Homo sapiens: one gene and its partners. The protein of the gene in region 4 interacts with the protein of the main gene of each other region in a biochemical or structural test. Each region holds a gene or a part of one and is shown on either strand. Other genes may lie near its edges. The genes, in order: SKP1, RNF20, RAD51 and FBH1.

Region 1 (7,024 bases), on a different chromosome or scaffold from region 4:
AAACCATGTCTAATGCTTCCTACCAAGGAGAAGCCAGGAGCTACACTTTAAGGATTCAGCCATTTTGTAAGCTTTCCCTTTGCTTGCAATCTTCTTATTCTTGACTTCTTCCTAGCTTAAAAAGTTATAGACTGGTTTCAAATCCAGATAATTGAAGATTAACTTTTCAAATCCTCAAACAACTTTGTAGGGAGAACATTTACTTGGTTGATTCCTTCCTACCAGAATGTACACTGAGCTTTAGAAAAGGAAAAATTGGTGGGTGCTGTGGCTCACATCTGTAATACCAGCACTTTGGGAGGTTGAGGCAGGAGGATCTTGAGCCCAGGAATTCGAAAACAGCCTGGGCAACATGAGGAGACCTCATCTCTATAAAAATCAATTTAAAAAAACAAAAACTAGCAAGGCATGGTAGCACACACATGTAGTCCTAGCTATTCAGGAGGCTGAGGCAGGAGGACTGTTGGAGCCCAAGAGTTCGAGGCTGCAATGAGCTGTGATCACATCACTGCACTCCAGCCTGGGGGGCAGAGGTGAGACCTTGTCTCTTAAAAGAAGAATCAAAAAGCTCTTCGGGCTACTCTGGGCACACTGCCTATGGGGTAGTCCTGCTCTGCAAGGAGCAGTTAAAAAAAATCTTCAAAAGCTAATGGTGGCAAGCAAAAGTTAAGCTTGTAAAGGGTGCTGAGAGCAAGAGGTCTGCTGCTCTCTCAATTTTCTCTTTTCTGGTGGAAAATCACCTTATATTCCCAAACTGCCTTATTGAGAGCCTAGGCAAATTAACTTAAACAAAATTTATGTTGGGATCAGAACACAGCCCATAGGATTGGTCAATTTTTACGTAAACTGAAAAATCAATGTGATTTGGAATATCTGCCTGCCCTAAGTGAGATGCCCACAGTGACTCACTGTTACTATCCTCCCTCCCCAGCTAGTTTTAAGATAAGCTCAGCATTACTATGATGTCATGTTACAAGGCTGCAGTTACCTGTCCAACCAAGTCACAATATAGTTCTTGCTTAATTCCAGGAGCTGGTGTATTCTGACAGTTGTAGAGTAAAAAGTCACAGCTATAATCCCACACAGGGAGCTACAGGATGATTTTGTGAATCTCTGAGAAAATATAAGAACTGTAAAGCAGTATCTATTTTGTATACCAAGAATAGATTAAGGCAAGCTAACACATGGCACTTCAAAAGAGTAACTTGCTTCTACAACTTAAGAATTATTAGGGCCGTGTGCGGTGGGTCACACGTGTAACCTCAGCACTTTCGGAGGCTAAGGCGGGCGGATCACAAGGTCAGGAGTTCAAGACCAGCCTGGCCAATATGGTAAAACTCCATCTCTAATAAAAACACAAAAAAATTAGCCAGGCATGGTGGCATGTGCCTGTAATCCCAGCTACTCGGGAGGCTGAGGCAGGAGAATCACTTGAACCCAGGAGGCGGAGGTTGCAGTGAGCTGAGATCGCACCACTGCATTCCAGTCTGGGCGACAGAGTGAGACTCTGTCTCAAAAAAAAAAAAAAAAAAAAAAAAATTATTAGAATTTGAGGGGGCACATCTTTAGCCTATGACAATGTTAAGGAGAAAATAATAAGCTAACATTCAGGAAGGTTTTGGTTTACTTTTAGATCACAAGTGACATAATCAATGAAAAGGTGAGAAGCCAAAGGACTGCCATGGAGTCCTTGAAAGGACTTCATCATTAAAAGCAGCACACTGCAGAAAGCAGCATGTTGTTTACAGAGGAAACCGACAAACATCCTTCAATCACCCAAATCTGCCAAATACCTTCTTCCTCTCATTCTCTTTCCTGGTGAAATAAAAGGCATTTCCTAATTAATCCCTAAGTTTACTTTATCAACAAGGGTTTTCTTTCCTTTACTACTATAACAGTAATTAGAGAAAGTCTTCATAATTCATCAGTAACCACTCTCCAAACCAAGGCTATTATCAGCTATTATCAAGCTCTCCCCTCTCATGCATTAAAACTACTCTTCTTGTTTTCATTATGCCCTGTACCTGCATTTCACAAGGACTTTTCACTTCTGTTACTTATACTGAAATTCATGGAGTAGTGCTGCTAAATACAAGTTAAATCCTGCTGTCAAGTGACTTCCAATGAAGTTCTGGAACTAATATAAAGCAGACTGCACTAGATCTATAAAACCGTAGTACCTATTTCCAACTTGCCCAAGGCCATGAAGACACTAAAACTCCAGCCTCAAGGTATGACTTAATGCCACAATATTAGTTTAGAAGAATAGTTGGGAAGTAAGAGAGTAGCCAGAAATGAGTGGAGTTTTGAAGACTGAGGTTTGGCTACTGTGATAATGAGAAAGGACCACTCACTCCAGGTGAAAGCCTAGAAAAGTTCTAGTAGATATATTAAAGGAATAGTGGGCATACAGCAGGGAACAGGAAAAAGAAAGGTAGGAAAATAATACTGCAACCAGACTGAAAAGGGCTTCTTAATACCATGTCTATGATTTATTTGGGTCCACAATGGTGAAAAATGGCTTATTTTCTCTTGGATCTCTATTAATGTAAAAGTTTAAGATTACTAGGATTTTTTGTTGTTTGTTTAGGGACTACAGAAAGTCAGGAAACAAAAATTTAAATTACTACTATATTGTCTGTCCATCCAATCTTTCTGAAAGATCTCATTATCCTTTAAATACGGATAGTGACGTTATTTACTCATATAATTCTAACTACTGCTGAGTATTATACAGATCAAGTGGTAATAACAAGCTCCAGTTTCTTAGAAGGTGATACTTCCTTTACAAGTTAAACATGGCATATGGCAGTAATCCTGGACCTTCAGTGAAGATTTGTTTGTCATAATACTGCTAAGGATACTTCTGGTTTGTTTTTGAGACAAGGTCTCGCTCTATTGCCTAGACTGGAGTGCAGTGGTGCAATGCCAGCTCACTGCAGCCTCGACCTCTCAGGCTCAAGCCATCTTCCCACCTCAGCCTCTCAAGTAGTTGGGATTATAGGCATGCACCATATGACTGCTAATTTTTTTTTTTTTTTTTGGAGAGACAGGGACTTTCTGTGTTGCCCAGGCTGGTCTTGAACTCCTGGGCTCAAACGATCCTCCTGTCTTGTCCTCCCAAAATGTTGAGATTACAGGCATAAGCCACCATGCCCAGCTGCTAAGGATACTTGAGGTGGATAAGGTTTTTGCAGAAGTTGATCTTATAATAGCAGGAATTGGTAGATGAGACAATTCAGCTAGGACTATACACCGCTACCTTCCCCACTAAAACCAGGACAAACAGAAAACAAGCTTATCTCCTGAGAGAGAGAGAGAGAGAGAGAGAGAATTTTAAATAACTCTTTACAACGTAAAAACCATTTTTAGCTCAAAGACTACAAAAACAGGCTATGGGCCTGATTTGACCCACACATTATAGTTTCCTATCTCTGGTACAGACAACAAATTGGAATTAAGTGAGACAACATATGGGACTTTATTAAATAAGGTGAATTTGGGACAAATGAAAGGTGAGATGAAGGCAAACTACTGTCAAGGGATGATCTGAGCCTGAACAACTCAGTGAATGTGAAGAGAAAACAAGATTACATGTGAATATAGATGTTAACTGGAAAAGCAAGGAGAAAAAAAGGGAGCACAAGGAAGAAAAAAAAATCAAAATTTGTGAGCCATCTCAAGCCATCAAAAAAACTTCATTCTATTGTAGGAGGGAAGCTGGAAACAATGGCAGAGTAATTTTGTGTTAAGAATTAAAGTACTAGCTCCAGTTAGGCATATAAATGACAATTAGAAGGGACAGAAGTTATGGTTATGTCAGCAGCCTCCAGTGAGCTAGGATATAAACTAAGTCTTTTCAAGCTGAACAAATATATACACATTCAACCCATTTAAGTGAAGAGACACATTTAAGTCCACAAAAGCAAACTTAACTACCTACTATATAACTTACTTTTTATTGAAAGTATCTTGCATTCATGATGGATGCTTTCTGGGTTTTACCACATATTTTAATGTTAAAAGTTAAATTATTCTTTACATGCAAGTAGTGTGAATAATTTTCTCCACATGGGAACACTAATTATAAAAAGATGACATCCCACATGGGTTAAGTGTCTTTTTAATTGAAAAGCTAACTGTCCAGTTACATTTCTCCCAAAAAACCACAAACTGGGTAGTAACTGAGTCTCTAGGCAATATATTTAAAACTAAGAGGATTAAAAATAAAGAAAAAGAAAACAAGTCCTCAGATGCAATGAAGGGAGCCCTGCTACATACAGGCTAATCAATACAGTGGTACTCCTTGACTGCAGGAGGCTGGAAGACATCCTAGTAGCTCCACTCAGAACATTTACTTCAAGAAGCCTTTTTCCAGTTTCCAACTCATGAATAAAGATAATATTTTGTTAATTCTATTCCAGAAAACTTTTTTGCAAGTTGTTTTATTTACAATGCCAACTTTTAAAAGGTCACTAAAGTTAACTGGACAATAAACTAGGCAGACATTGCTTTACAAAAAAGAGGGAAAGCCCAAAATGCCACTTATAGAGAACCCACAGTTCAGTTTTATTCAGAGCAAAGAAAAAAGAAACTTTCCATCATACTAGAAGAAACTTGGCCGTAAGGTTTGGGATCTGTGCTCAAACTACACATGCAATGAGGACAATATTCTGCTAATACAATTGACTTGCTGCTGCATTTGTCTACTGTTTGTCTAATATTAACAATTATAAACAGAGCAGTGCAACTAGTATTTGGAACAATCCTTACAGTGTTACAGTGTCAGGCACAACATTTCACTTCTCTTCACACCACTGGTTCTCTTTGCGTACCTAAAAGAGATGGATATAGGGAAGTACCTTAACTTGAGTAGTCTTTCCTAAGACTTATAAATACTACCTACTGATTCATCGATAGCCAGTGAGTTGAGTCAGAAGAACAGATGGAAAATTAGAACAACACCAGGTTAAGACTATATTTCCGGATTTCCTTTCTTTGCCTCCCATGGTTTTTATTCTGCCCTGCTGAAATTATGAACAAAGCAAAGGCAATGGGCAATTTACTAAAGTTGACAGAGCAAATTCAGTTAATTCATTCACATTATTTCAGTCTGTAGTCATGTCAACAAAATCATTCTGATCTATTCTTTCATTTCCTCCCCTCATTAAGTTGCTCTAAAGTACCCTAGTATATACTTCTCTCTAGGGCCTGCTTTTCTGATGTCAGATATGTATGGTCTATACAGAAAGTTGCAGGTGCCAAAACTAGTAACTGTTAATACATTAACAAGAGCTCTTCTCATTGAAAACTAATTGTTCTTATGCTTAAAATGCAGTATCATCTAAGTGTTCAGATTCATAAAGACAGAACAGTAAGAGTATGTTTAAGACACATTAAGTACATATTATCCCTAAAGTATCAAGACTACTTGATACAGTCACCTCTTTTGCTGGCATGTTATAGGTGTTACTCCCTTTTTAAGAGCATGTGATCAAAGACAAAACTGTGTGCTACCTACCTGGGCTTCCTCCTCTTCAGTAAAGTCATTTTTGATATTGAAGGTCTTGCGAATCTCCTCAGGAGTTTTCCCCTTGATCATATTGGCAACAGTCTTGCATGTAACATCAAGCAAACCTTTGATGTCTAAGTAGTTTGCAGCCTGTAAAGAGACAGTTGTTTTCCTTAAAGTATACTTGATGTTTTAAACTAAATCCAAAGTTAATGATTGACACTCCGTATCTAATAAAGCTTAAAATGCTAATTTTAAGAAATTAAAGGGAGAAGAATAAATCACTCCTAAGTTCTTCTGTGAAAGACTTTTATGTGACCTTCTTTGTTATACCTCTATAATGTTGAATCCTTCTGCTTCCTTAACCAAACTATACTAGCTCAAATGTGAAATAACGGCCACTACTGTTGTGTATGTGTGTACACATGCACACAAATACCACATCAGGTCTTGGCAAAAATATTTGTCCACACTTAAAGAGTTCAAACGTAAGCAGTTATAGCACTATATTGATCTCATTTTAAAAAACAGGTTTTGGTTTCATTGACTTTATTGTTTACCTGTTTTCTATTTCATTGATTTCTGCCCTTTAATATTCTCATTCTTCTGTTTACTTTGTAGTTAATTTCATCTTTTACTAGTTTAAGGTGGAAGCTTAGATCACCGATTTGAAACTTTTCTTCTTTTCTAATAATATAGGTATTTCATTCCATCAATTTCCCTCTAAGTACTTCTTTAGCTGCATCTCACCGATTTTTCATGTGTTTTACTTCCACTCAGCTCAAAATACTTTCTATTTCTTCTCTGACCCATAGGTTACTTGCAAATGTGTTAGTTTAAAAGTAGTTGCAGATTTTTCCAGATACCTTTCTGTTTGTGATTTCTAATTCCATTGCAGTCAGAAGACATACTTTGTATGACCTGAATCCTTTTACAATGGAGACTTTTTTTTTAAGACACCGTCTCACTCTGTCACCCAGGCTGGAATTCAGTGGCGTGATCTCGGCTCACTGCAATCTCTACCTCCTAGGTTCAGCCAATTCTCTTGCTTCAGTCTCCCAAGTAGCTGGGATTACAGGTGGGTGCCATCTCACCCAGCTAATTTTTTTTTTTTTTTTTTGAGACGAAGTCTCGCTCTGTCACCCAGGCTGGAGGGCAGTGGTGCGATATCGGCTCACTGCAAGCTCCACCTCCCGGGTTCATGCCATTCTCCTGCCTCGGCCTCCCGAGTAGCTGAGACTACAGGTTCCTGCCACCCCACCCGGCTAATTTTCTATATTTTCAGTAGAGACGGGGTTTCACCATGTTAGCCAGGATGGTCTCGATTTCCTGACCTCGTGATCCGCCCACCTTGGCCTCCCAAAGTGCTGGGATTATAGGCGTGAGCCACCGCGCCCGGCCTAATTTTCGTATTTTTAGTAGAGATGGGGTTTCATCATGCTGGCCAGGCTGGTCTTGAACTCCTAGCCTCAAGTGATCCACCCGCCTCACCCTCCCAAAGTGTTGGGATCA
Region 2 (7,024 bases), on a different chromosome or scaffold from region 4:
TTTGGCTTTGCCCATGGAGGTTCTTATTAAGTAGGTATGAGATAGGTCCTAGGGAAATGTCTATTTTAAAAGTTCCACAAGTGATTCTGATGGGCAAGCCTAGCTTGAAAACCATGAAAACCACCATATGACCAACCTGTTCTGTATTGATACTAAGAGTAATGCCAAGAGGTGATATGAGAAAGCATATTTTTCTTCCTGATAACTCTCTTTGATGGGTGGTATATATCCTGAGAGTATCTGGTTTCATTTAATTACATTTGGATTTCAGCTATAGTATTTGCAACTCTAATTTTAAACATACGAACTTGGTGTAATAAGTTCTATGGATTTACCTACCTGCTTTGTAAATAGTAGTGTACATTTTGGTTTTTAAGCTTCAGAAGTGCCCCTAACATAGTATTTCAGAATATATGATATGAGAATATGTGATAAGAGCATATGATTCTTGCTTTGTTATTCAGGCTGGTCTTGAACTCCTGGCCTCAAGTGATCGGCCTGCCTTGGCTTCCCAAGGTGCTAGGATTACAGCGTGAGCTGCTATACCTGGCCAAGGATACACAGTTTTAAAATTTGACACTATAGGCCAGGCACGGTGGCTCACACCTGTAATCCCAGCACTTTGGGAGGCTGAGGTGGGTGGATCACCTGAGGTCAGGAGTTTGAGACCAGCCTGTCCGACATGGTGAAACCCCATCTCTACTAAAAATACAAAAATCATCCGGGTGTGGTGGCATGTGCCTGTAATCCCAGCTACTCTGGAGGCTGAGGCAGGAGAATCGGCTCGAACCCTGGAGGCAGAGGTTGCAGTGAGCCGAGATCGCGCCACTGTACTCCAGCCTGGGCGATAGAGCAAGACTCCGTCTTAAAAAAAAAAAAAAAATGACACTCTAGATGCTAAATTAAAGTATAGTTCTTCTTCCCCAGATAATCTGATAGTGGAGGAAGCAGTGCAGGAGCTGAACTCTTTCCTCGCACAGGAGAATATGAGGCTACAGGAATTGACAGATCTTCTTCAGGAAAAGCATCGCACCATGTCTCAGGAGGTACTTAACCAAAAAGGAGAGATGGCTGTGTCTAGTGGGCTGTGGCAGATGTTGACTTACAATTCTGAGCACCTCAAAGATTACCTTACTCTAGAAGGCCTATCATATCATAGGGGATTTTGTAAAACACAACACAACTCCAAACCTCCAAATAATGAATTACCCTAAATATAAAAGACTGTATAGTGTTATTGAGGAATGGCGTGGTAGAAATTCCACAGGGAATGGGGAAGTAGAAACTACTGTATTGATGATGTCCTAGGAATTTGAGGAATGTCAATTTTCAGTCTAAACTTGGGTGCAAATAATGCCATGATTAAACCATGCCAAGATTTGGACATTTATTTATTTACACAAAATGATCAAGATAAAGTGATGATAGGCCTTAAATGACTTTTCTGATACTTCTGATGATCATTTTGATTTAGTTCAAAATATATTCTACTGGAATTTGCCCCACCTTAGTTTGGCCACTGAATTCTTATGCTAATTAGTAATTTAGTAGTTGCCATTTACTTAGTGCCTAGAATTTAAGCACTTTATGAATGTTATCTCTAATGGCAAAACAACTCCCATTTTATTGCCAAAGAAACAAATTCAAAGAGGTTAGTGATTATTCTGAGGGCACATAGCTAGAAAGTGATTGAGCTGTGTTGTGACTGTAGGTCTGTTTGACTTCAAAGCTCTTGTTCTTCATATGCCTTTGTTTACTAAACCCCAGTGTTAAGGTCCATGCTGGCCTGGTTGCATGAATATCATCTGGGGAATTTATTAATTCATATGGATTATCCTGGACCTTCAAAGGGGTTAGAATGTAGTAGCCCTTATAAATAAACTGGAGTCTAGTAAGAAAATAGAATATTTTTATCATGTTTTAAGACATTGACTAGGTGCTACCAAGATGGAGAGGTCTTCCTTTTCTAGCCCTTTGACAAATCTCAGATAGTATTACTAACCTGGAGGGCAGTTGTTTGCTAAACTGTGATGTCCTTGTTGGCTCTCATGGCTGGCTGTTGATGCTGCCTGTCAGCTGGGTTAATTGTCTACTGGGATACCTGCAGTTTGCCTCTCCATCATGGTAGTCTCAGGATGGTTGGAATTTTTACATGTTGGCTGACTTCTTCCAGTGAGCATCCCAAGATCACCAGGTAGAACCTTCATGGCCTTTCTGATATAGCCTCAAAATTGTGTAGTGACATTTCCATTGGGTCTCTAAAGTTGACCCAGATTCAAGAGGAGGGAACAAAGATCCCACCTCTTGTTCAGAGGACTTTCAAAGGATTTTTGTGTCATGTTTTAAAACCTAGCACAAAGGGTATATATAGATTAATGTGAACTTGTAATAGTTTAGTAGTTAAAATACTAAATAGTGTTAGCTGGTGTATAGCTCCTAAATAGAGTATCTGACTTTAGATTATAGTATAATCTATACTGTATTGTATCTGACTCTAGATTGCTCTGGGGTGAGCTTAAAAAAGAGTATGGAAGTTTTCTTTTGTTGTGAATGAATGGATTACCTTTTGTGGGACTGTGGAGAGAAATTTGGGGGTAAAAATGGTTTTTTTGAAAAAATATTTATCTTACAAAACAAAAGATACTATTTATTATCTCTTAAAAAATTACAAAATTTTTATGAGTTTGTGGTCTGTCCAGAGAAATGGTGCTTTTCAGAGGTAGAAAAATTGTTGAATCTTAGGTGGTCTTTTCTTTGTGTGAGAGTTCTTATAGACTTTAGACTTAAAGTTTGCATGATTATAACTGACACAGAATTGTTGGAGGAATCCGTGATTTCATTTTTGTAATCATGCATTGGGAAGAGGGTGAAGCATCTTCTATTTGCCTCTTTTCTATAATTACTCATAAGCAAGGGTTAATATTATGGAATTTGGTCTTTTTTTGCTATATGTTTCTGAATGTTTGTCTTTGGGATGTAGTTCTCCAAGTTGCAGAGTAAAGTGGAGACAGCCGAATCACGAGTGTCTGTCCTGGAGTCCATGATTGATGACCTGCAGTGGGATATTGACAAAATTCGAAAGAGGGAACAGCGACTCAACCGACACTTAGCAGAAGTCCTAGAACGGGTCAGTGCTGTTTTATGGCTTGGAGACTAGAATCATTTTAAGGAGTGTTCTCAGGAAGACTCACCTTGGGGCATGGTATTTGAGGAAAAAATCTCATCCTTTGAAGGTACATTGGTTATAGACTGAAATCTTAAGAGTCTCTCACTAAAGAATCTTTGTGTTCTCTGTAGGTGAATTCCAAAGGTTATAAGGTGTATGGAGCGGGGAGCAGTCTGTATGGCGGCACAATCACTATCAATGCTCGGAAGGTAAAATCAGTGACTCAGGACATGTTTTGGACTGTATGTCAGCTTTCATGCTTAGGTACTTAGGACTGTGTTCACAAGTGACATCATGGGGTTTTGCTGGAATAGCGAATCAGTGAAGAAAGGAAGCTTAGAAATGATTTAAGAAGAATACTTATTTATTCTCTATTTTTCTGCTTCTCTGCAGTTTGAGGAAATGAATGCAGAGCTTGAGGAGAACAAAGAGTTGGCTCAGAACCGTCTCTGTGAGCTGGAGAAACTTCGGCAAGACTTTGAGGAGGTCACTACACAAAATGAAAAGCTGAAGGTAGGAACGCATCCCTGAAGGGCAGTAAAATCAGACGTTCTGCTGATCAACTCACGTATATACATAGTTGTGAATCTGCGTATTCATGAGGGATAAGAAAAATGTAGACAAAATCCAACATCCTTTTATGATAAAACTCTTAACAAATTAGGTGTAAAGAAGTGTACCTCAACATAATAAAGGCCATATAAAACAAGCCCACAGCCAACATTATACCCAATGGCGAAAAGTTGAAAGCTTTTCCTTTAAGATCAGGAACAGGATAAAGATGCTCGCTGTCATTACTTTTGTCCTAGCCAGAGTAATTAGGCAAGGATAAGAAATAAAGGCCTCTTAATCAGAAAGGAAGAGGTAAAGTTGTTTCTGTTTATAGATGACATGACTTTATATATAGAAAACCTTACAGGCTCCACGAAAAAACTGTTAGAACTATAAATGAATTCAGTAAAGTTGCAGGCTACAGAATCAACATACAAAAACAATTGTGTGTCTATATACCAACAACAAACTCTATAAAAAAGAAATTAAGAAAACAATCCCATTTACAATACCATTAAAAAAAATTGTGAATAACCTTAACCAGGGAGATGAAAGAACTGTACACTGAATGGATAAAGAAATGTGGTGTGTGTTTGTATGTGAGTGTGTGTGTGTATATGTGCAACAGCATGGATATATTTAGAGGACATTATGCTAACTGAAATAAACCAAGCACGGAAAGGCAAATACTGCATGATCTCACTTGTATGTGGGATCTAAAAAAGTCAAAATCTTGGAAGCAGAGTGTAGAATGGTGGTTACCAGGGTTGGGGAAATCGGAAGATGTTGGGGAAAAGGTACAAAGTTTTAGTTATGCAGGATGAATAAGTTCTGGTGATGTGTAGCATGGTGACTATAATTAATGCTGTATTGTGTACTTGAAATATGCTAAGAGTAGATCTTAAATGTTCTTGCCACACACGAAAAGATAACTGTGAGGTGAAGGATTTGTTAATTAGGTGGATTGTGGTAATGATTTCACAGTGTATATGTATAGCAAAATGCCACATTGTATACCTTAAATATGTATAATTTTTATTTGTTGATTATACCTTAATAAAGCTGGGGGGAACAAAGAAAAAATGTTAAGTTTTGTTGATATATCTACTTCTTTACTTACATATTTACTTATTATATGTACTCTGCCTTGCCCTGAAAAGGATTTAAAGCAACATACAAAGATATGTAGACTAAATCAAGGTGCTGTAATGTAGGAGTTGTTGAGAAAAATGAGAAGTAGGGTAAACTAGGGTGAGGATCCAAAATGCATTAAAGTGGGGCTTGTATACAAGATGTTTGCAGGGGGCATATATATACTGTGGAAGGGAGGCCATTCACATGTCAGTGCTTACCGAAGTGATTCCACAGGTTTGGCTCTGCAGTTTTTTGCTACCAAAACAGAGAAAGAAACACGATTGGTGATCCTGTTGGTCTTCAAACCTGCCCAGAAGAATTTTCTTCTTAGGTTGTTAGTGTAGGGGCCAGCCCCACAGGGTCGGTGGGTCTCTCCCTGTGTGCGGAGACGAGAGAGTGTAGAAATAAAGACACAAGACAAAGAGATAAAAGAAAAGGCAGCTGGGCCTGGGGGACCACTACCACCAAGTTGCGGAGACCGGTAGTGGCCCCAAATGCCAGGCTGCACTGATATTTATTGGATACAAGACAAAGGGGCAGGATAAGGAGAGCAAGCCATCTCCAATCGTAGGTAAGGTCACGTGGGTCACATGTCCACTGGACAGGGGGCCCTTCCCTGCCTGGCAGCCGAGGCATAGAGAGAGAGGAGACAGAGAGAGAAACAGCTTATGCCATTATTTCTGATAATTAGAGACTTTTAATACTTTCACTAATTTGCTACTGCTATCTAGAAGGCAGAGTCAGGTGTACAGGATGGAACATGAAGGCGGCCTAGGAGCGTGACCACTGAACAGGTTAGGCCTCCGGATAACGGCGGACGAGCCTGACTAATGTCAGGCCCTCCACAAGAGGTGGAGGAGTAGAGTCTTCTCTAAACTCCTCCCGGGAAAGGGAGACTCCCTTTCCTGGTCTGCTAAGTAGCAGGTGTTTTCCCTTGACACTTACGCTACCGCTAGACCACGGTCCACCTGGTAACGGGCGTCTTCCCAGAAGCTGGCATTACCGCTAGACCAAGGAGCCCTCTGGTGGCCCTGTCTGGGCATAACAGAAGGCTCGCACTCTTGTCTTCTGGTCACTTCTCACTGTGTCCCCTCAGCTCCTATCTCTGTATGGCCTGGTTTTTCCTAGGTTATGATTATAGAGCGAGGATTATTATAATATTGGAATAAAGAGTAATTGCTACAAACTGATGATTAATGATATTCATATATAATCATATCTAAGATCTATATCTGGCATAACTATTCTTGTTTTATATTTTATTATACTGGAACAGCTCGTGTCCTCGGTCTCTTGCCTCGGCACCTGGGTGGCTTGCCGCCCACATCTTAGGAGAAGAAAAGAGATTCTGGAAGTCTTTCTCACTCCTCTTTCGATCATAGTCATCTCTATTTTACAAGTTGTTTGTAGGTTAAATGATATGAATAAAGATGTTTGAACTGAAAAATAAAAAACAAAAACAACCTAAGTTAAATCAGTTAAAAGTGTTTGAGTAATTAAATCAGATAGTTGCTTAGGAGAGGCATAACTATTTTTGATACCCTGTCAATTTTTTTCTCTGTCACTGTTATTAAAGAGAACAAGTTAGTGACTGGGGTCCTCAACTATGTTTTTAAAATAAGCATCCTGACAAATTTCACTCTTCTGGTGGCTCATTTGACACAGAATATAAAACACATATCAAAACAATTCTAGGAGGAAAGAATACAGTATATCCAGGTACCATCTCCTAGTTAGTCTAATTTAATTTTGGGGTAGATTTTACATAACTACAGCAATGGGTAGATAACTTAATAATCTTTATAAAATTGTCTCTCTTGTGTAGGACATCAGTGAGTTCAAAATTTTACTTCCTGTCTAGCGTCTGGGGCAATGCTAGATTCTGCTTCTGACTTTGCTTTGGGCCCTCCTAAGGTGGAATTGCGGAGTGCAGTGGAGCAAGTCGTTAAGGAAACTCCAGAATATCGCTGCATGCAGTCACAGTTCTCCGTCTTGTATAATGAGAGCCTACAGTTGAAAGCACACTTGGATGAGGCTCGGACCCTGCTTCATGGCACCAGAGGAACCCACCAGCACCAGGTTGAGCTTATTGAGGTAATAGCCTTGCCTTGTCTTTTGTATGTAAGCTTTCTTGCCTCCTAAATTTTACAATTTTACTCCCTCATGTGCAAT
Region 3 (7,820 bases), on a different chromosome or scaffold from region 4:
AAAAAAAAAAAGTTCATCTCATACAAGGAACAAATAGAACAGTGGTAACCAGAGACTGAGGAGAATGCAGCTGTTGCAGGGGGCGGCAGGAAGGAGAGAGGTTGGTCAACAGGCACAAAGTTTCAGTTAGATAGGAGGAATAAGTTCTAGGGTTCTATTTCACAGTAGGGTGACTACAGTAAACACTAATGTAATGTATACTTCAAAATAGCCAGAAGCGAGTATTTTGAATGTTCTCATCACAAAGAGAAATGACAAGTGTTTAAGTGAACTGATGGATATGCTGATTACCCTGATTTGATCATTCATTATACAATGTATATATGTATTGAAATATCATCTTGGGCCAGGTGGAGTGGCTCACGCCTGTAATCCCAGCACTTTGGGAGGCCAAGGCGGGTGGATCACCAGGTCAGGAGATCGAGACCATCCTGGCTAACATGGTGAAACCCTGTCTCTACTAAAAAATACAAAAAATTAGCTGGGCGTGGTGGCAGGCTGAGACAGGAGAATGGCGTGAACCCAGGAGGCGGAGCTTGCAGTGAGCCAAGATCGCGCCACTGCACTCCAGCCTGGGCGACAGAGTGAGACTCCGTCTCAAAAAAAAAAAAAAAAAAAAAGAAATATCATCTTGTATCTCATAAATATGTACAATCGTCTGTCAAAAACAAAGTAACACTTATTATTTTCACAACCTTGGGACAGAAAAAGATTTCTTGAAACTGGATGCATAACGCACTAGCCAAAAAGGAAAAGACTGAAAACTGAACTACATTTAAATTCAGCACTTCTACTGGGCACTGTGGCTCACGTCTGCAATCCCAGCACTTTGGGAGGCCAAGGCGGGCAGATCACCTAAGTTCAGGAGTTCAAGACCAGCCTGACCAACATGGAGAAATCCTGTCTCTATTAAAGAAAAATACAAAATTAGCTGGGCGTGGTGGCACATGCCTGTAATCCCAGCTACTCGGGAGGCTGAGGCAGGAGAATCGCTTGAACCCGGGAGGCGGAGGTTGCGGTGAGCCAAGATTGTGCCATTGCACTCCAGCCTGGGCAACAAGAGCCAAACTCTGTCTCAAAAGGAAAAATAAATAAATAAATAAATAATAAAAAAATAAATTCAGCACTTCTATTCATCAAAGGACACCACTAAGAGAGTGACAAGTCAAACCACAGTAGAGAAAACATTTAGCACAAACATAACTGAGGGCTGATAACCAGTATATAAAGAACTTCACATCAGTAAGAAAAAGATAATAGAAAAATAGGCAAGAGATTTGAACAAGCACATCACAGAAGATATCAAAATGGGCAAAAACATATGAACAGATGTCCAACATCATTATTAATCAGGAAAATTAAAATCACATTAAGACATTACTGTGTAACCAGCAGAATAGTTAAAATCAAAAAGGCTGAAAAATATCGTGTTGGCAAGCATGTGAAACAACGAAACACTCAACACTCCTGATGTATTTTTATATAAAATTCAAAAACAAGCAACATTAGTTCATCTCATTAGAAACCAGTATAGCAGTTACCACTGTAAAAAGGGGAAAATATTAAATACTACACAGGAAGGCTTCTGAGGACCATTCTATTAAGTGGTGATTACATAGGTGTATATTCATTTTGTCTTGCTCTATCGCCCAGGTTGGAGTGCAGTGGCCTGATCACAGCTCACTGCAGCTTATACCTCCCAGGCTAGATCCTCCCTTCTCAGCCTCCTGAATAGCTGGGCCTACAGGTGCACGCCACCATGCCTAGCTAATTTTTCCTATTTGTAGAGATGCGGGTCTCACTATCTTGACCAGGCTGTTCTCGAACTCTTGGGCTCAATCGTCCTCCCGCCTCCACTTCCCAAAGTGCTGGGACTACAGACGTGAGACACGACGCCCGGCCAGTATATTTTGTAATAATTCACGGAGTTGTATACAGTTGTGAATGTGAATTTTTCTACATGTATATTACATTGCGCTTTAGAAGTTAAAAACAAACAAACAAACAAAAAAACAGGGGCCAGGCGCTGTGGCTCACGGCTGTAATCCCAGCACTTTGGGAGGCAGAGGCGGGTGGATAACCTGAGGTCAGAAGTTCGAGACCAGCCTGACCAACATGGTGAAACCCCGTCTCTACTAAAAATACAAAAATCAGCCTGGCGGCGTGGTGGTGGGGGCCTGTAATCCCAGCTCCTCGGGAGGCTGAGGTAGGAGAATCGCTTGAATCCGGGAGGCGGAGGTTGCAGTGAGCCGAGATCGCGCCACTACACTCCAGCCTGGGCGGAAGAGCGAGACTCCATCTCAAAAAAAAAGTTTTAAGAAAACCAAACCTCACTTCAGATCATTCTCTAGGCATCATGTGAATGGTTTTCCGCATTAGATGATGAAAACACTGTTTTGGCAATCGGAGATTGGTACTTTCTAAGCACGGTGTAATGGAAAGACAGATCAGGAATCCGGAAGCCCTGGCTGTGATATTAAACAGCTGTGGCTACACCGCTCTGATCTCGGACTTCTCGCTCGAACCCATAAAATAGGTGTTGCCTATAAAGGCTCTAATGTTTCTCCCCTAGTTCTAAAGACTGAGGTCCACTTGTGTTTTCGCCCCAGCAGCTGAGGGTCGGTCGGGCGCGGACACGCCCTGCCACGTCCGGGTTTCACACTGCGCGCGGAGGCCCCAACTGCCGCTGAGCACTGGACCGGCCAGGACGCAGGTGGGCGAGGACGAGCCGCGGCTCTGGAGGGCCCAGCCTGCGCCTCACACACTCACCTCGGTCCGCAGCGCTCCTCTCTCCAGCAGGCCCCGCGCTCCGACTTCACCCCGCGGGCGTGGCACGCGCCCGACCCGCACGGCCCCCAACGCCCCTGGCTTACGCTCCACTTCTCTACTCGCTTGCCCCAGCCTTCTGCGCACAACCCAGATGAGTTGCAGTTCCCAGCTGCACGCCTCGGGAAGCGCCGCACTCTCCTTAGGGCTCGGTCTCTGGCCGCTGCGCGCGGTCCGCCAGCGGCTTTCAGAATTCCCGCCAAACCCTCTCGCCCAGGGTCACGCCCGCGTCGACGTAACGTATCCCCGCCTCCCGGATCCGCCTTCTCCCCGCTTCCGCCCTGCGCGCTAACCCAAGACGGGAGCTCGAGAGCTTGATCCTGCGCGAGTTTACAGACTGCCCTCTTCCCTTTTTGCGTAAGGACTAATTCAAACTTTATGCCGGGGGCGGTGGCTCACGCGTGTAGTCCCAGCTGCTCGGGAGGCCGAGGCGAGAGTATCGTCTGAGCCTAGGAGTTCGAGGCTAACCACGGCAACGCCCCTACTCCTACCCCAGTCCCTCGCGGGTGGGGCGAGGGATTTCAGGGGGCGGTGGGGGAAGACTTAACCGAGTTGCCGTCTTCTGTTTACCAGATCGAAGACCACGACTCCCAAGAGGTAATGCGTCGGCCCGGGACTACATCTCCCGGCATGCATCGCCGGCGGGTCCGCGAGTTCTCACCATCGCAGCTGGACTATTAGCGGGGGCCCTAGCGCTCTTGTGGTTTGTTTCGGCAGTATCTGAATGTCAGCTTTTGGCACTTCTGGTCGCTCTGAGCCTCCTACTCGCATTCCTGGAGCAAGGTGCTTTCCAGGCCTCATGGAGGTGGAGGAGCTGAGGAAGCTCGAGAAGATGGATAGAAGTGGGAAATGGAGCTAGCGTACGGGAGAGGGAAATGGCTGGAATATTCGTCAATCTGTGGTGCTTTACTGGAGATTTGCAGGAGTTCAGAGGAAGGGGGCATTGAATTTCATAACCTAAACCGTATCGTGGTTTACCAGAAAGTTTTGACCCGTGATTCCGGTTTTAAAGGCTGAGTAGGGCCGGGCGCGGTGGTTCACGCCAGTAATCCCAGCAGTTTAGGAGGCCAAGGCAGGCGGATCACCTGAGGTCAGGGGTTGGAGATAAACCTGGCCAACGTGGTGAAACCTCGTCTTTAGTAAAAAATACAAAAATTAGCCAGGTTTTGTGGCACATGCCTGTAATCCTAGCTACTCGAAAGGCTGAGGCATGAGAATCGCTTGAACTCAGGAGGAGGTTGCAGCCAACCGAGATCTCGCCGCTGTACTCCAGCCTGGGCGACAGAGCGAGACTGTGTCAAAACAACACCACAAGCTAGCTGAGTAGGGATTCTTGGGCGAAGTGGAAGACATTATAAGCAAATAGGGTAGTATGGGCATGGAAACGAACTACATGATTAAAGATTAGTATTATCTGGCGAGGGAGGAAAAGTGCCAGAGCAAGTGCCGAAACTGGAAGGTTACATTTAGTTCAGGATATGAAGATCATATAAGGCCTGCACGGTGGCTCACACCTGTAATCCCAGCACTTTGGGAAGCCAAGGTGGGGGAGGATCGCTTGAGCTCAGGAGTTGGAGACCAGCCTGGGCAACATAGTGGGACCCCATATCTCAAAAAAAAAAAAAAAAAAAATAAGCTGGGCGTGGTGGCTTGTGCCTGTGGTCTCAGCTATCCCGGAGGCTGAGGTGGGAGGACTGCTTGAGCTCAGGACGTCAAGGCTGCAGTGAGCTATGATGGGCCACTGCACTCCAGCCTGGGCTACAGAGTGAGACCTTGTCTCAAAAGACAAGCGACAACAACAAAACATGTAAGGAGAGGCCAGGCGCGGTGGCTCAAGCCTGTAATCCCAGAACTTTGGGAGGCCAAGGTGGGCGGATCACGAGGTCAGGAGTTCAAGACCAGCCTGGCCAAGATGGCAAAACCCCATCTCTACTAAAACTACAAAAATTAGCCGGGCGTGGTGGTGCATGCCTGTAATCCCAGCTCTTTGGGAGGCTGAGGCAGAGAAGTGCTTGAACCCGGGAGGTGGAGGTTGCAGTGAGCGAGATCACGCCACTGCACTCCAGCCTGGGCAACAGAGCAAGACTCCGTCTCAAAAAAAAAAAAAAAGGTAAGGAGCTTTGGTCTCTAGGTACTGAAGAAATCATTGAAGTTTTTAAGAAGACAAGTCATTTGGTTAGATCTATTTTCCCTCCACTTACCAATTTATTTTTATTTTTATTTATTTATTTATTTATTTATTTTAGATGGAGTCTTGCTCTGTTGCCCAGGCTGGAGTGCAGGGACGTGGTATCAGCTCACTGCAACCCCACCTCCCAGATTCAAGCGAGTCTTCCTGCCTCAGCCTCCCAAGTAACTGGGATTACAGGCGCCTGCCACCACGCCCAGCTAATTTTTTGTATTTTTAGTAGAGACAGGGTTTCACCATGTTGGCCAGGCTGGTCTCGAACTCCTGACCTCAGGTGATCCACCTACCGTGGCCTCCCAAAGTGCTGGGATTACAGGTGTGAACCACCGCACCCGGCCTTATTTTTTTATTTTTGAGACAGCATCTCGCTCTGTTCAAGTTGGCCTTGAACTCCTGGCCTCAAGTGATCCTCCCACCTTGGCCTCCCAAAGTGTTGGAATTACAGGTGTGAACCATTGCAATGGCCTTATTACTACTTTATATTTGTGGAGTGCTTTAAAGTTGACAAAGTTTTTAGTTAATCCTCACACTATTACCTTGTGGCGTTGAAGAACAGATTTCAGGAGCGTGAAAGTGAAGACACCAAAAAGGAAGTTCTTGCAATATTTCAACAAAGAGATGAAGATTTGGATTAGATTCCAGTTCTACCTTTTTGGCACCAGGGAGCTGTTCTGTGAAAGACAATTTTCCACAGGGCTCGGGGGGTGGGCATGAGGCAGAGGATGGTTTCGGAATGAAACTGTTGCACCTCAAGATCATCAATTAGATTTCCATAAGGAGTGTGCAATCTAGATTCCTCACAGGTGCAGTTCAAAATAGGTTTTGAGTTCCTGTGAGAATCTAATGCTCTCCTTGATCTGACAGGAGGCAGAGCTCAGGCAGTAATGCTTGCTTGCTAGCTGCTCACCTGCTGTGCAGCCCAGTTCCTAATAGGCGACAGGTCTGTGTTGGGGCGTTGGGGTCCTCTGAATTAGAGGAATGACAGAGAGAACAGACTCAGGCAGCTTTCTGGATGTAGAAACAACCTAACTTAGTGATTATAGATACTACCTGTGATAATAGTGAACTTTCTTCCATATCAAAGTTACACACCTTTGCCTCCGGTTCTTCCCACACCCTTAGAGCATCTGCAAACCTACAGCCCTCCTCCTAGCTGACTGTAGTCACATGACTTTTACCTTTCTGGCCACCAGTTGTACCAGCAGTGTTCATCTGGCCCCAAATTGGCCAATCATTTTCCTGCTCCTGGAAAATTAGACTTGGCTTTATATTCAAGTCTGACCTCAGGAATTTATGGGGCAAAGTACACAGATAGATGTGTGTGAATGTCCAATCAGAGAAAGCACATCTGCAGAAAGATTAAGAAATTGATGTCGGGTGTGGTGGCTCAAGCCTGTAATCCCAGCACTTTCGGAGGCTGAGGCAGGCGCATCACCTGAGGTCAGGAGTTCGAGACCAGCCTGACCAACATGGTGAAACCCCATCTCTACTAAAAATACAAACATTAGCCTCCAGCTACGCAGGAGGCCAAGGCAGGAGAATCGCATGAAACTGGGAGGCAGAGGTTGCAGTGAGCTGAGATCGTGCCACTGCACTCCAGCCTGGATGACAGAGCAAGACTCTGTCTCAAAAAAAAAAAAAAAAAGAAAAAGAAAAAGAAATTGAGATACTAAGGAGAGAGTCAAAGATAAATAAACCATTTGAATTCTGACTCCTTTCCAGATCGCCTTTCCAGTTTCTCAGAAGCCTAGCAGTACTTACTCCTCCTGCTCTTGGGTTCTTTTTTACTTTTTTTTTTTTTTTAAAAAAAAAACCTTGAACTCTTAAGGATTAATGCTCTTGAGTTATGAGATATCCCTACATTCCAATAACTCTACCTTCTATTTTTATTGATTAAACTAGTTTGAGTAGTTTCTGTTCCTTTCTTCCAAAACAACCCACTGAGAACTTGGAAATAAGGCAAACTAGATTTCCCTCTAATAGTTAAATTGGCATTCTCTGAGAATATTTATAAATGTGTTAATTGAAAAATTTTGGAGTGTGGTGGCTCACACTTGTAATCCTAGTGCATTGAGAGGCTGAGGTGAGAGGACCATTTGAGGCCAGGAGTTAGAGACTAGTCTGGGCAATGTAGTGAGACCCCCCAACTCTACAAAAAAAAATGTTGTTTTGTTTTTTTTGTGTTTTTGTTTTGAGATAGAGTCTCGGTCTGTCGCCAGGCTGGAGTGCAGTGGTGAGATCTGGGCTCACTGCAACCTCGGCCTCCCAGGTTCAAGCGATACTCCTGCCTCAGCCTCCCGAGTAGCTGGGACTACAGGCACATGCCACCACGCCCGGCTCATTTTTTGTATTTTTAGTAGAGATGGAGTTTCACCATGTTGGCCAGGATGGTCTCGAACTCCAGACCTCATGATCCGCCTCGGCCTCCCAAAGTGCTGGGATTACAGACGTGAGCCACCGCGCCTGGCCAAAAAAAACCTTTTTTTAAAAATTAGCCAGGTGCGGTGATGCACACTTGTAGTCCTAGCTGTCTGGGAAGCTGAGGAGGGGAGATTGCTTGAGCCCAGGAGTTCAAGGTTACAGTGAGCTATGATTGCACCTTGCACCACTGCACTCCAGTCTGGGCGAAAGAGTGAAACTTTGTCTCAAAAAAAAAAAAAAAAAGTATAAATACATATATATAAATGTATATATATAGAGATACATACACACACACATACATATATATGTATTCTTTATATATAAGGTAATGTGTATCAAGTGATCTAATCTGCTCCTAATTCACCTCCTCTAGTATGCTTACAAA
Region 4 (7,024 bases):
CCGAAAACTCTGAAAACAACAAGACAGAGGGAGTCAGCAGCCCGCCCTGTGGTGTGTCCGTGCATTTCCATCACTGCTGCCACAGCCTGGCCGGGCCAGACCCTACAAGTTGTTCCTGACCCCCCGCATGGAAAGCGAACTTCACAGGCTCACTTTCAAGGTCCTTCACAACTCAGCAGTCTTTATTTTCCATTATTCTCAACACCAATAGTAAATTTTTCTTTTAAGCAAATCTACCCTTTTCTCCAAATCAAATCTAGTGAAGTCTAAATCATACAAAAGATGAAGATCGGGTAAGGAGGGCTTCTCCCCTTGCCTTTGAGATCCCTCTCCACACTACCTTTAAAACTACTGCCCTGCACCAACCAGCCATGGCAGAAGCACTAGCACCTGCACATTGTCCGTGCTGCCCTGCCTCAGCCCACGCGGTTTTCTGTCTGACTTTCATCCACCAAAGTCACTTCCTAACCTTCAAAACTCAGCCCAAGACCCTGCTTCCTTCGCCCCTCCAGCTGGCAAGATATCATTCTTCCCTACACTCGGGGTGTGTACAGCCTTTTTCCATGCACACACAACTTCATGTGCTTTGGTGAATAGCAGTAACAGTCAAACGAAAACTAGACTTTAAACAAACACTACTTTGTTGCTATAAAACTACTCTGAGTGAACCATAACCGAAATTATAACATAAATATCCATGAGTTCATATTAAGATAGATAAATGATTGAATATTTAAATAGATGGGAGAGAAAAAACAAATCTCCTTTACAGAAGAATTCCAAATAATTTGGGAAGATTCTCCAACACTTACTCCTTGAGTGTGGACTGCATATAGGGACTTCCTTCCAAAGCATCCAGTAAGGAAAGGATGAAAAAAAGTGGAACTCTACAGTGAAGAAACCTGACAAACACTACATCAGCCAGGTGGTCAAGGTCAACATCAAGTCATGAGCCATGGTGACAGTATGCACCTCAACACCATGTGATGAAAATGGCGCTTCACCTCTGTGGTCTTCCTCCCAGAACCCAGGACTCTAGCCTAACCATGAGAAAAGACATTAGACAAATCCCAGCACAGGGGCAGCCTACAAATGCCTGACTGGAACTTCTGGAAAATGTGAAGGTCACATCAGAAATAGGGAAAGTCTGAGCAACTGTCACAGCCAAGAAGAGCCTCATGACACATGGTTACATGTAATGTGGGATCCTGGATGGGCTCCTGAAGTCACAAAAGACATTATTTCAAAACTAAGGAAATGCAAATGAACCATGGACTTCAGTCCATAATAATGTATCAATGTTGGTTCATTATCGTGACAAGTGTTCCACATTAATATAAGACGATAAGATGTTAGTAATGGGAAACTGAGTACAGGATATATGGGAACTCTCCTCTCGATTTTTCTGTAAATCTGAAACTGTTCTAAAAAAATACCATCTATTAAAAGAACAAATCACCTCTGCAGTGACGCTACCCTAAATCACCACAGCAGTAGGAGCTCAAGGGAAGAGTCACAGAGGCGTCTACGGAACTTTCAATAACATCACAAAACACAGCACAGTTGATACTTTCATCCAAGTGAGACATCTCTTCTAATCAGAAATAAGTTTCTTAAAAGCAGTGGTTCTCGAACTGCTGGTCTCAGGATGCTTCACACTTAAAAATCACACTTAAAAAGCCTCCAAAGAGCTTTTATTTACATGAGCTCTATCTATCTATATTTACCATATTATAAATTTTAATTCATTTAAAAATAACTATTAAAAACTATTTTTTTTTAAGACAGAGTCTCATTCTGTCACCCAGGCTGGAGTACAATGGTGCGACCTCGGCTCACTGCAACCTCTGCCTCCTGGGTTCAAGTGATTCTCCTGCCTCAGCCTCCTGAGTAGCTGACACTACAGGCGGGAGCCACCACACCTGGCTAATTTTTGTATTTTTAATAGAGACAGGGTTTTACCATGTTGGCCAGGCTGGTCTTGAACTCCTGACCTCAAGTGATCTGTCCTTCTTGGCCTCCCAAAATGCTGGGATTACAGGCATGAGCCACCATGCCCAGCCAAAAGCCTCTTATATGATGACATAAAGAACATATTTTTTGAAACATATTTCCGAGAACAAAAAAAAATGCAGCAAGAAGAGTGGCACCATGTTCCATTTTTGCAAATCTCTTCAATGCCTGGCATAACAGAAGACTGCTGGCTTCCTGTGTTCACATCTGCATTGCCTGCTGAGATATACTGTCTTGGCTGACACACATGAAGAAAATTCAACCTCACACAGACATGTGATTGGAAAGGAAGGAGCGCATAATAAACTTTTCGCATAATCAAGGACACTGTGAGTTGTCACATTCATTATGGGAGAGTTTGCCAACATTTTAATTTCACTTGAAAGCAAAGATGTTACTTTTGACAACAAACACTGTCAGTTATTTTCCCTGAAGTCGCAGCTTGTTTCACTTGTCTTTGAAAAAGTGCCAAATACACAAGTCTGAACAACCAGCGCTGGTCTAACAACTGTTCTAAGCACAAATGTACAAGGCGGCAGCAGCCATCGGTTCACAGTTCAGCCGCAGCAGCTCTTCCTCAGACGACCGCTGTGCACACACCTCTTATGAAAACAGTGTGACTTGGCAGACCCCTGAGAACCACACTTTGAGAACCATGGCTTAGAAGCAAGGATTTGCTAGATCTGGTGAGCCTGGCATACCACCTTTCACAGGGCCTGGCACGTAAGACATTGGGAGAGAGATGCAATGCCTCCCATGCAGAGTGCGCACTTACCTGCGTGAGATAGAAGACGTGGGTGTGGGGCACTGTGAACAGGGCGTTGACCGCACCCCGGAAGGTATAGATCTGCTGGTGCGGGTCCCCTACAAAGATTTTCCCACATGGCTGAGACAGAACTATGTTCATGATAGCTGTAACCAACGAGAGGAAAAGTGAGAAACCTTGAGGCCTCCACCCCAGGCAGCAAAAAGAAAAGGACAAAAACACTTCCACGAAGCTAAGCCAGGGCACACTGGACCTCACGGTCGCCTTTTCCTGTAGGACAGGCACACTCCATCAAAAGCAGCCATTTTATAATGGACAAAAGAAACAGTTTCTGGTGCTAGGAATGCAGATTATGTTTCGCCTTGGATGAATTGTTGGAATATAAGAAAACAACACAGGCAAATCTAAAATGAGGCAGTGTCTTCTCTAATATTATAGCACTCAAAATTGACCTACAAAGTCAGACGGATAACACTGTCTGTTCTCTCCTAGCCACTTGAGAAGTAGACAACACAAGCTTTTCCCTGTCAATGGACGATCTCTTCCCACAGAGCATGAGTCTAGGTCCCTGTCGTCTGCTGGTCTACAACTTGGTCAACATGTTAAGAACAACCTAAGCAAAACCTATGGTGACAGAGAAATCTGCTTGGGTGAGGGGAAGGGGCAGCTTGAAATCCTAAGGTAAGTATGAAGATCCTCTTCTTTATCACAAATAATAATAATCAACTTAGTTCACACAGGTGTCCTCTTACATAATCATGGCGCTGTTTCTACGTATTTGACACTACTGATGTCCTGAACAGTGTATCACCTGGTGTGCAGTCCTGGGCCTCATCCACAAAGATGGCGTCAAAAGAGGCCAGCGAAGGCTTGCTCAGCTGCCAGAGTTTCAAGTAGCCTAAAATAAGGAGAGACGCAGGAGTTGTAACGCCAGGAAGGCAGTCCCATTGGCCAGTCCCCGCCATTCGGCAGCCGCCTACCGTCATGAGTCATCTGGTGCGCCTCTTCTGTGCACTCCCCCAGCTTCCGCATGTTATCCCAGAGGCGGCTCGCTTCAAGGACACCATTCTAGGAAGTAAAGCATATGGTAACCCAGAGTTTGAGACCCTGGCAAAGGCAGCACCCTGCGGTCACACTGTCAACTCCCATACAGCAGTGGAGCCAGGGCATCCTCACAGAAGGGGGACCGCAGACACCACCCTAACCTCCTGGGTCTCCTCAACAGCCTCTCCACGCCAGAGGGTCTCCAGTGCTGAGACAGGAAGCAGCCGGGCCGTGCCATGCCCGTGACAGGACAGAGATCATAACAGTTAGGTGAACCAGAAAAGGCCAAATTGTTCTTCTAGATTTATGACTGATGCTTAATTCACAAAAACAATGGCACATGATTGAAAAGACTTGATGAAAAAAAGAAACAGACTTTCCCACTAGCAAAATCTATTCCATAGAACCAATAACCCAAGAAAATCAGGAGAGATTCCAGCCTTCAGTTAAGATCAGTTTTGAGGTCCAGGAGCCCCAGTGACAAGCTCTTATAAACTGAGGCGGGTCGTTCCATGTCTGCCTTCTCTGTTAAATGGGAGGACTATTCCGAGGCTTAAGTGAGATGGTCACCAGTGTCCTTCACAGGAGAAAATACCCAACAATTCACAGCCATCACCATGGGCCTACAGCCTCACCCTCCCACCTTCAACCTCCTATGACCAGGTCTGAAGAAATGAAAGAAGAAATAATGCTGTCCCACACTCCCTGTTTGCCCATCCTCAGATCCCTAACACTTCCCGTTCCCCCATCCTCAGATCCCTAACACTTCCCCTGATCCCCCATCCTCAGACCCCTAACACTTCCCATTTCCCCATCCTCAGATCCCTAACACTTCCCGTTTCCCCATCCTCAGACCCCTAACACTTCCCCTGTTTCCCCATCCTCAGACCCCTAACACTTCCCCTGTTTCCCCATCCTCAGATCCCTAACACTTCCCCTGTTCCCCCATCCTCAGATCCCTAACACTTCAGACACTTAGACACTCACCAGTTTTTCACTCTGCTCAACCATGACTCTCTGTCCTTGGCTGTTCTTACACCAAATAGGCACGTGATCAATGGTCAGCTCTTCGTCAGCCGAGGCAAAGAAGTTTTCTAGAGTCTTACACACAAGCTTGGCTCTTATGAATCCACCCTTCCCTTCAGCAAGGACGGAGTTGACCATGAAGGGTGTTAACTTGAAGAGATTCAACTTCTTCTTTGACTGGTACCTGCAATACCCATCCCAAATGAACAGCACGTGGCTCTCCTGGCTTGGTGCTATTGAACGTCCCCTCCATTCTCTCTAATGTCACCAGGAGGTAGCTTCAAGTGCCACACACAGGCGAGTGTTAATGTTTTAAAGCGAAAAAGTTCTGCATGGTCCATGTCTGACTGGAAATGGCTTTCAGGACTCACATGTACCAACCCAGAATAGGAACCAGCTTTCGGCAGACACTGCTATTCCACCATGAAGCTGGGCTCCAGAAGGTCCCCGGAGGGACCCTTGGAGTTCCCTGATGCCTCTACATCCAGGAGACCTGGGTCAAGTGTGCCTCGGCTGAGTCTTCCTCACTCCCTTCCAAGAAAAGCCTACAACTGATCAGGATTTGTGAGACTCTGAACTTTAAGCAAGTCATTTTGACTTTCTGTGCCTCACTTCCATGAGAACACCCCTCTTGGCAAGACGGCATTATATGTAAACAATATGTTGCTACAGGATAAAAGTACAAATGGCTAAACCTATGTATTTGTTTCCTGCCTGTAAGTGGAGATAACAGCACTACACTCCTCGGGGTCACTGTGGTGTAAGCTCACATGTGATCGTCACGGGAAAACAGTAAGACGCGACCGTGCCAGCAGCAACAGTGCCACTAGTGACAGCAGTACTCACTTCCGCCCTATGTGCCCGTAGGCCATGGAGTGGAAGGTTTTGCAGATGACGTTGCTGGGGAAGACGCGTTCGGCCTGCTTTGCGATGCTCTTGTTGAATGTCACATACAGAAACCTGCTCTGAGACCACTTCTCTGCATACTTGACCAGCGTTGAGGTCTTCCCAGTGCCTGGGGAAGCCAGGAGGAAAGGAGGTGACCCTCTGACCAGACAAGACATGCCCAGGGATCCCCAATCAGGCCTTGTCCAGGCTTATCACACCTCTGTCTTGAGAGCAGGACAGTAACAAGTTTTTCAGTGCTGGTAAAAGTAGTGCCACCAAAAGAGCAGCAGATTCAAAGCCAGGTGAAGGTGGGCTGGGATCTCAGCTGGGGCAGGCTCCAGCCGAGGGGCAAAGGACAGGTGGACCCCTTGACCTCATGAGCTTCAGTTTGCTTCTCAGAAATAAGTGGGTATCCATTAGAGGTAGGGTTCCCGAGGGCAAAAAGGACCCCTCAGGATAGGAGGGTAGGGTTAGGGAGGGGGAAGGCATGTCTCTGGAGAGAGACAGGTCCAGCTTTGAATTCCACCTCCACCACCTATCCACTTATTCAACCCCGGGCAAGGCTCTCTGTGCTTCAGTTTCTTCCTCTATAAAACAAGAATAACTAAGCAACCTTACGGAATGCTATCAGGATCAGCACAATGCCAAGCACACTGCAGGCATTCAAAATGTTGTTGTTGTTGTTAGCAGGGTATTTAGCCACAAAAGGAGCAGGAAGGGATTACAGGCAGAAAAAAAATAGCAAATAGCACGAGCAAAGGCTGTGATGAAAGAGTAACCAAGTACTTCAGGAGGCTGTGAGTGGATCGGCGTGGCTGACTGAGGCAGGACACTTGTAGATAATATATTTATGAATGTAAGTTAAAAGCCAATCTAAGGCAGGCCCTCTAGACATCACCCTATAAAACTGGGGAGCTCCTGAAACCCTGGGCTGGGGATTAACATGCCCTCCCTCTCCAGAAGCAATCAGTGCCTGAGCAAACATCACAATGCTGGGCTCAATCCCGGGGGCATCTGCCCGACCAACTAACTGCTGTGAACTACCTGTCTCAACAGGAATTCTGTGGATGTTCATGGAGTGGTCCGGGGAAGTAAGTATTCCTTGGCCAATTGCTTTTGAGATTGATTATTTGATCTGTTATTGAATTATTAGTTGGATGACAGATCAGAGCAAAGATGCCCTGGCAGGTAGCGGGAAGGGGATGTAGGGAGAAAAGGCAGAAAACCACCACCTCGTGAACCTGATGTGGGCTCCCTTACCGGCAAAGGCCATAATTTTCACCACCT

The links.
Region 1: the proteins of FBH1 (region 4) and SKP1 form a complex in vitro, tested with the Homo sapiens proteins (one study listed by BioGRID).
Region 2: the proteins of FBH1 (region 4) and RNF20 form a complex in vitro, tested with the Homo sapiens proteins (one study listed by BioGRID).
Region 3: the proteins of FBH1 (region 4) and RAD51 form a complex in vitro, tested with the Homo sapiens proteins (2 studies listed by BioGRID, with this or other methods).

The regions. Positions count from the first base shown.
Region 1 is NC_000005.10:134,152,934-134,159,957, forward strand, and holds part of SKP1 (S-phase kinase-associated protein 1), read right to left. Parts: intron 5,663-7,024; coding exon 5,522-5,662; coding exon of another isoform or gene 5,495-5,521; exon of another isoform or gene 4,836-5,494; coding exon 4,800-4,835; 3' UTR 1-4,799. UniProt on the Homo sapiens protein: Essential component of the SCF (SKP1-CUL1-F-box protein) ubiquitin ligase complex, which mediates the ubiquitination of proteins involved in cell cycle progression, signal transduction and transcription.
Region 2 is NC_000009.12:101,543,840-101,550,863, forward strand, and holds part of RNF20 (E3 ubiquitin-protein ligase BRE1A), read left to right. Parts: intron 1-927; coding exon 928-1,046; intron 1,047-2,980; coding exon 2,981-3,127; intron 3,128-3,297; coding exon 3,298-3,375; intron 3,376-3,559; coding exon 3,560-3,679; intron 3,680-6,766; coding exon 6,767-6,946; intron 6,947-7,024. UniProt on the Homo sapiens protein: Component of the RNF20/40 E3 ubiquitin-protein ligase complex that mediates monoubiquitination of 'Lys-120' of histone H2B (H2BK120ub1).
Region 3 is NC_000015.10:40,690,375-40,698,194, reverse strand, and holds the start of RAD51 (DNA repair protein RAD51 homolog 1), read right to left. Parts: upstream 3,022-7,820; 5' UTR 2,770-3,021; intron 2,664-2,769; exon of another isoform or gene 2,569-2,663; intron 2,562-2,568; exon of another isoform or gene 2,330-2,561; intron 1-2,329.
Region 4 is NC_000010.11:5,914,243-5,921,266, reverse strand, and holds part of FBH1 (F-box DNA helicase 1), read right to left. Parts: coding exon 6,998-7,024; intron 5,865-6,997; coding exon 5,696-5,864; intron 5,034-5,695; coding exon 4,811-5,033; intron 3,848-4,810; coding exon 3,760-3,847; intron 3,678-3,759; coding exon 3,591-3,677; intron 2,926-3,590; coding exon 2,789-2,925; intron 10-2,788; coding exon 1-9. UniProt on the Homo sapiens protein: 3'-5' DNA helicase and substrate-recognition component of the SCF(FBH1) E3 ubiquitin ligase complex that plays a key role in response to stalled/damaged replication forks.